2 linked regions of the Homo sapiens genome follow. The protein of the gene in region 2 interacts with the protein of the main gene of each other region in a pairwise test. Each region holds a gene or a part of one and is shown on either strand. Other genes may lie near its edges.

Region 1 (4,439 bases), about 17 Mb from region 2:
TTCGTTTGTGATGGAGGTTAAATAAGATAATTTGGGGAAAGCAGTTGGCAGAATGCCTGAAACAGAAGAGTACTCTGCAAATCAGTCTATTCTCCGTCCCTGTTAATAGTACATTGAAAAACCAGTTAGGGTCTTTCTTCATTCATGGCACTTTTTTCACTTTAGATGGAATTAAGACATAAGTTAAGGCCAGTCTATTGAACAACTCAATAACAAGCAGGAAAATGAAGGAAAGAAATCAGTCAATAATTCATTGTTTGTTGGCTCTACATCCTGTAGATTATAGCCCCACATGGAATTATTTTTTATAATTGTGGTTTTGAAAGAGAAACTTGGATTTTTGTTTCCATTGAATGTTTTAATTAATCTAATATTGTGTCTTTAGAAGCATAGACTTCTTCAGTTTGGTAACCTAAAAGTTAACAGTAAATTGACTTGCATTTATGTTAAAGTAAACTTCTCCTTAAATTTTATACCCTCCAAAGGCCTACATTCTTTAAAAAAATAATTTGCTTTCATTGTAAGCAAGTTAAAATAATAGTCTTTCAGTTTAATTAGCAGTTTATTGAATGATTAAATATATGTTTAAAGTGGCCAAAAAATAATATCATGTTATTATACTAGGAATAAATCCTCCATTAACATTAATTGAGTTTTAACAAATGAGTTGATTAGGAGGAAAGGAAAGAGGAACCAGCTCACCAGATGCAACTTGGTGCCAGACACCTGGTTCCTGCATGGACCTAATGTTCTTTTGTCATAGCACCTTGGAAAAAATAATCAGTGGCTGCATTTCTTAAAAATAATACACTTCCCAGTGAATGAATCATGTACTAAAATGATTGCTTTTGATTTATTTACTCATTTTGTTTTTCAAAGAGTTTATATTCATTTCTCAGAAAATTATGGAGGATAATCAAATTGTCATGCATTTATATGTAAAAAGAGCAGCACAGATGATATGTGGTAATGACCTAAATTTGTCTTGACTAGTTTAATTTCCTACTTTCTCTGCCATAAGTAAGAATGTATGCTGAGACTAACTCAAAAATATTAAAATATAGCAGGGCTCCAGGTATGAAGCAGGATATGGTCATGATAGGATTCAGCCAAATCTAGAGGACTCATGGGACCAGGAGAGTTGCAAAGTGAAGATCATAATGTGTCTTAGATGAAGTTCTTGGCAAGGAGATGGGGTGAGAATTCAGAATAGAGCACTATTTCTGTGCTGGAATTTGTCATCTGATGGGGCTGCCAGAGATTCATATAGGAGACCTCACAAGGAGCCGGGGTGGGAGTGGCAGGGTGGGAGGGAAAGGGTTAGTCACACAGAATTTGAAAAACAAAACCAACAAAGCCAAAAACAGCTGACAAGGTCTTTTAGTTATTATTATTATTTACAAATTCTGTACGAATTTGAGGGCTTAGAAATTTGGACCAAAAGGGGTGGGGAGTTTTTCCCTTCCCTCCATGTAGCTCTGTGAGACCTCAGCACAAGGAGAGATAAGCCAAGAATGCTGCAGCTAGAAGATTGCACCTGGTGGGAGACAACCCACAGATGCCACAGCAGGGGCCAGTCCCTTCTCCAGCTTTGCAGGTAGGATAGGCCTTGACAGTGTCCAAAAGGACTTTATTAGCTCACATGAATTCCCTTCAGAGGTCCCAGGATCACTGGCAAAGGCTTCTGGCAGAGGCTGGAGGGACCACCATATTATAGTTAATATGATTCTATTATAACCCAGACTGGTGTAACCTCGATTAGTACTTGTTAGAGGAGAGCATCAGCAGGGTTCTTGCCCATTAAGAGGAGGGACTGTGCATAATGGAGTGCTGGGAATTGCCCCACCTGTGGAGTCAACACACCCAAGGAGACTGGCACTGCACACTTACTGTGTGCCAGGCACTGCTCCAAATAAGTGTTTGAAGAGTGTTTCTTCATTTCATTCTCACAACAAGCCTGCTACTATACACATCTTTCATATGAGAAAACAGAAGCACAGAGACATTAAGTAGCATGCCCAGGTGACACAGTTTGTAAGTGGTAAATCTGGGACCTGAAGCAGAGAATCTGGCTCCAAAGCCTGTCCTCTTACTACCAAGTGACGTTTGTGCCTGGCACAGAGAAGGTGCTCATTAAATGTTTGCTGATTCAAATCATTTTACCAAGAAATTAAACATGCTTGAGCTTATTGTTCTGGACTTAATGCCCTGACTACTCTTAAAAAGCAAACAAAAATGCTTACAAGTACACCACAATGAAACAAAACCTGGAATTATCAGAACATGGTAAATGCTTTATTAGATTTTCTGATTGACCAAGGGAAATTACTCTAAGCTTTCAATGTCTTCTTTTCCTACAAGGGAACTAAATTTCCAGGAAGTTCTGTGACAAAGCCACAGAGCTGAGAAGTAAATTAGTCTGTGCTGGACCTAGGATTTCCCTTGTTCTTCCACCTCTGTCCCCAGCAATTGCTTTGCTGCCTATTCTCAGGGGAAGGCATTGCACTAGCCATGCATGCTCCCTGGAGAATGACAACTTGAACTGCAAAATCTCAAAGGTTGTGCTTCTTTTGTTCTTCCTCTCATCTAGTTGATAGGCAGAGAACAATTCTGATTGAATATTCTATTTAATTATGTTTAATCATACTAAGAATCAACCAATGTTAATTATTAAAAAGGGAGAAAATGGCCAAAACATCATGTACAACCATCCTGACTTTAGGTATGAAGGGTCAACATTCATTCAGCTCTGAGCCAGGCAGTTAAACAGCAAACAGTTTTAATAAAGGACAATTAAATAAGTCAGGAAATCCACCAGTCTGTTCTCCAGGTTCACTCACCTTGGTGTGGAGGACGATGGGCAGAGGTAGTAAAACCAACACAGTGAAAACCACGAAGAGAAATCGGCGATAAACCAGAATGTAACTGAAGAATTTCATTGTCCTGAGCAGGTGGCTTCAATAGTGTCCTCCAAATAAAGCAGATGTTAAATAACCAACTTGGATTAATATTTTTCCAGCCTGTCACCTTCACTCACTGCCCTAGACCGACCAACACAAGTTAAAATTAAATCTCATTTTTTATTGTTTTACTATCACAATTAACATGAAGAGATAGGCCCAAGACTTTTCATGAGAAATCAAAGACCATTTGCTCCTCTGGGTTTTCAAGGAAAAACTGTTCTTTCCCTGCTTTCTTTGATCACATTCACTGAAATACAGACTGGACAAGCCTAGGAGAAGGCAAAACCATGAAGCTGGTTGTTTGTTCACAATGAGGCACTTCCAACCCTTTTGATGTCCTCTGACTTCCAGACTCCCTAACTGGAGTAGTTACCACATTGTCATGGTGCCATGAGTGAGTCTCCACAGGCAGCCTCCATGGCCCTTTCTAAGGAAGTATGTTTTCAGTGTGTAAATTGAAATAGCAACTAATAGTTGGAATTTCAGTGTATGACAGTGAAAGGGAAACTTTTTTGTTTAGAGATGGATTTTTAACGGACTTCTTGGACAATGTATTGCAAGGGTCTTCTACAAAATTTATAGCAAATGTCCCTGTTGGTTAGAAGCAAAGTTTTGTGTATTTCTTGGACCCTATTGTCTCTTTTGATAGAAAACCAAAATAACCATGAAGTGTTATATAAACCCTCTATTTTAAGACCTTTGAAGGCTTGATTTGATACTGTTGTGCTGATACAGACTACATAATTATCAGGGAATCTGCATAAAGATGAGTGATTAGGGACATTCAAGTGGTGTGTGATGTGTGTGTGTGTATGGTTTGTGCACATGAGCACATGGGAAGTTGGAGACTGTTCCAACAGTGATATGGAGGATGTATTTTGAAAATCTTCAGGGATAAGGACCCTGGTTTTTTTCACGTTGTGTTGTAAATTGATGATCCAGTAAACCTCAAGTTAGCAACTACTACTTGTCTTTAGATATAAATGAAACACATTCCCAGCCCTACTAGAATTTATAGTCAATATCTCTTGACATAGATAACCTTACTCTTATGTAATCTATAGTTAGCATTTAGGTCTTATTTCTAACTTCATACTAATATAACTCTGCATTCTCTTTCCATCAAGAGAAACAATTCTCTCACCAGTACTCACCATATTAATGTAAATGAGAAAGCATTTTTTTCCTGTAAAAAATTTAAATTCCTAAACATCTATTATGGACAGTTATTCAGGAAAATCAGAATAGTAAACAGAAAAAAAGTTTCCAAACCAGAAAGTCTTATTATATCTTAAATTTCTTAGATGAAAGGATAATTACAAATGATATTGTAATAAAATGGTAAGTGATAATAAATAGGTAACAATAGTATATAGTGTTAAAATTAATTTATGAACTGATTTACTCAAACCAGTTGTAGTACTTATTTTTTTCCATTAACACCCTGTACAGTTCTCTAGTTCATTGCATGCTTTT
Region 2 (3,818 bases):
ATAACAGTATATGACTTCTGACACTAGGTCATAAAAGGCATTGTGGCTTTTCCTTGCCTCCTCTGTTAAATTGTTTGCTCTGGGGAAAGCTAGCTGCCAAGCTGCAAGGATACTAAAGTATCCCTATGAAAAGGCCCATGTGGGCCAGGCGGGGTGGCTCACGCCTGTAATCCCAGCGCTTTGGGAGGCAAAGGCAGGTGGACTGCCTGAGCTCAGGAATTTGAGACCAGCCTGGCCAACATAGTGAAACCCCGTCTCTACTAAAAATACAAAAGTTAGTGGGGTGTGGGCCGGGCGCGGTGGCTCATGCCTACAATCCCAGCACTTTGGGAGGCTGGTGTGGGCTGGTCAGGAGATCAAGACCATCCTTTCAACAAGGTGAAACCCCATCTCTACTAAAAATACAAAAATTAGCTGAGTGTGGCGGTGCATGCCTGTAATCCCAGCTACTCGGGAGGCTGAGGCAGGAGAATCACTTGAACCTGGGAGGTGGAGGTTGCAGTGAGCTGAGGCTGTGCCACTGAACTCCAGCCTGGCGACAGAGCTAGGCTCTGTCTCAAAAAAAAAAAAAAAAAAAAAAAAATTAGCCAGGTGTGGTGGTGCATGCTTGTAATCCTAGCTACTCTGGAGGCCAAGGCAGGAGAATCTCTCGAACGCGGGAGGCAGAGGTTGCAGTGAGCTGAGATCATGCCATTGCACTCCAGCCTGGGTGACCAGCAAAACTCCGTCTTGAAAAAAAAAAAAGGCCAAGTGGTGAGAAACCAAAGTCTCCTGCCAACAGTCATGAGAGTAAGACCTCTTAAAAACAATACTGGGCTAGGCACCATGGCTCACGGCTGTAATCTCAGCACTTTGGGAAGCCGAACCGCGTGGATCACCTGAGGTCAGGAGTTCGAGACCAGCCTGGCCAACATGGTGAAACTCCGTCTCTACTAAAAATACAAAAATTAGCTAGGTGTGGTGGCGGGCGCCTGTAATCCCAGCTACTCCGGAAGATGAGGCAGGAGAATCGCTTGAACCCAGGAGGCGGAGGTTGCAGTGAGCCGAAATTGCGCCACTGCACTCCAGCCTGGGCGACAAGAGCAAGACTCCATCCTAAACAAAACAAACAAAAAAACCCAAACAAACAAACAAAAAACAATGCTGGCTGGGCACTGTGTCTCACACCTGTAATCCCAGCACTCTGGGAGGCCGAGGTGGGCAGATCACTTGAGGTCAGGAGTTCGAGACTAGCCTGGCCAACATGATGAAACCCTGTCTCTGCCAAAAATATAAAAAATTAGCCGGGCATAGTGGCACGCAGATGTAATCCCATCTACTTGGGAAACTGAGGCAGGAGAATTGCTTGAATCTGGGAGGCAGAGGTTGCAGTGAGCCGAGATCTTGCCACTGCACTCCAGCCTGGGCAACAGAGGGACAAGACTCGGTCTCACACACACAAAAAATATCCTGGAGTCCCCATCAAGTCTTCAGATGACTTGCTAAAATTTTGACTGCCATCTCATAAGTGTCTCTGAGATAGAACCATCCAGCTAAGGCACTCACAGAATCCGGAACCCCAGAAACTGAGATAATAAATGTTCACTGTTTTAACCTACTAAATTTGGGGATGGGCCAGTTTCTGGGGCTCATGCTTGTAATCCCAACACTTTTCGGAGGCCAAGGCAGGAAGATTGCTTGAGCCCAGGAATCTGAGACCAGCCTACGCAACATATTAAGACCCCCATCTCTACAAAAAACTAAATAAATGAGGTGGTGCATCCCTGTGGTCCCAGCTACTTGGGAGGCTGAGGTGAGAGGATCATTTCAGCCTGGTAAGTTGAGGCTGCAGTGAGAAGTGACCACACCACTGCACTCCAGCCTGGGCAACACAGTAAGACCCTGTCTCAAAAAAATAAATAAAAAATAAATTTGAGGGTTACTTGTTTAACATCCACAGATAATACACCTAGTCATTTCTGAACTAGGAGGATAGAAAAGCCCTACCCAATTTTTTTTTAAGGTGGAGTCTCGCTCTGTTGCCCAGGCTGGAGCGCAGTGGCGGGCTCTTGGCTCAGTGCAACATCCACCTCCCGGGTTCATGCAATTCTCCTGCTTCAGCCTCCGAAGTAGCTGGGATTACAGACGCACACCACCATGCCCAGCTAATTTTTCTATATTTTGTAGACATGAGGTCTCACTAGGTTACCCAGGCTGGTCTCAAACTTCCAAGATCAAGCAATCCTCCTACCTAAGCATCCCAAAGTGCTGGGATTATAGGCATGAGCCACTGCCCAGCCAAGAGTCATTTTCAAAGCATTATTTTTAATCAGTGACATATAAAGCTATCAGAAGTATGTCTTTTACCTTTTTCCTCCAACCCACCCCTGAACAAATTTATAAACAAATTCTTACCTGCAGCGGTCTCCATAAATACAGTACCCTCGCTGAAAATACTTGCACACTACACTATACGGACTGTCAGAGAGGTCATGCGAGTAGCGACAGTTGTCTCCTTCCTTACAAACCCCATGCATAAAATACCTGTGAGACGAAAGACCACAAAACTGGATTAAAACCAATCCTTGAAAATATTAAAACTAATTAGTATTCATGACTAATATATTCAACCAGTAAATACACAAACATACGAAATAAACACAAAGAAAGGGCCAGGCATGGTGGCTCATGCCTGTAATCCCAGTACCTTTGGGAGGCTGAGGTGAGTGGCTCACCTGAGGTCAGGGGTCTAAGACCAGCGGTTCGAGACCAGCCTGGGCAACATGGTGAAACCCCGTCTCTACTAAAAATACAAAAATTGGCTGGTGTGGTGGCACACATGTTAATCCCAGCTACTCAGGAGGCTGAGGCAGGAGAACTGCTTACACGTGGGAGGCTGAGGTTTCAATGAGCCGAGATCGCGCCATTGCACTCCAGCCTGGGAGACAGAGCAAGACTCCATTTCAAAAAAAAAAAATAAAAAGAAGGTGATAAGAAAACAGGAGTAAAGCAAGTGTATTAGTCCGTTTTTGCATTGTGTTTTTGCTTTGTAGCTGGGACTACAGGCGCCGCCACCACGCCCGGCTAATTTCTTGTATTTTTAGTAGAGACAGGGTTTCACCATGTTAGCCAGGATGGTCTCGATCTCCTGACCTTGTGATCTGCCCACCTCGGCCTCCCAAAGTGCTGAGATTACAAGCGTGAGCCACTGCGCCTGGCCCTTGTTTTTGCATTGTTACAACGAACTATTTTGACATTCCAGCCTGGGTGATGGAGCACGACTATGACTCTGTCTCAAAAAAATGTAATAATAATACGCCTTAGATTATGAAAACTGTTTAACTTACATAACAAAAAGAAAAAAAAAGGGCCAGGCGTGGTGGCCCACACCTGTAATCCCAGCACTTTGGGAGGCCAAGGCGGATGGATCACGAGGTCAGGAGATCAAGACCATCCTGGCTAATATGGTGAAACCCCATCTCTACTAAAAGTACAAAAAATTAGCCGGGCATGGTGGCAGGCACCTGTAATCCCAACTACTCGGGAGGCTGAGGCAGGGATTGCAGTGAGCCGAGATCGTGCCATTGAGCCACTGCGCTCCAGCCTGGACAACAGAGAGACTCCATCTCAAAAAGAAAAAGAAAAAGAAAAAGAAAAAAAGATATAGTCTACGTCAAAGAATTTCTCCTCCAAACAAAAACCAATGAATATAAGTATATGTCTTGTTTTTAAATGATACCACCAAAAAAAAAAAAAAAAACATCATCCAGATTCACCCCAAGTTGAGTTTGCCTTCGGTGAAAACCTGGGCCATATATTATTTCTGAAGTTCCTTCCAC

The links.
Region 1: the proteins of MKRN1 (region 2) and SLC13A1 interact in a protein complementation assay, tested with the Homo sapiens proteins (one large-scale study listed by BioGRID).

The regions. Positions count from the first base shown.
Region 1 is NC_000007.14:123,197,008-123,201,446, forward strand, and holds the start of SLC13A1 (solute carrier family 13 member 1), read right to left. Parts: upstream 2,963-4,439; 5' UTR 2,940-2,962; coding exon 2,841-2,939; intron 1-2,840. UniProt on the Homo sapiens protein: Sodium:sulfate symporter that mediates sulfate reabsorption in the kidney and small intestine. Can also mediate the transport of selenate and thiosulfate.
Region 2 is NC_000007.14:140,469,489-140,473,306, forward strand, and holds part of MKRN1 (E3 ubiquitin-protein ligase makorin-1), read right to left. Parts: intron 2,524-3,818; coding exon 2,395-2,523; intron 1-2,394. UniProt on the Homo sapiens protein: E3 ubiquitin ligase catalyzing the covalent attachment of ubiquitin moieties onto substrate proteins. These substrates include FILIP1, p53/TP53, CDKN1A and TERT.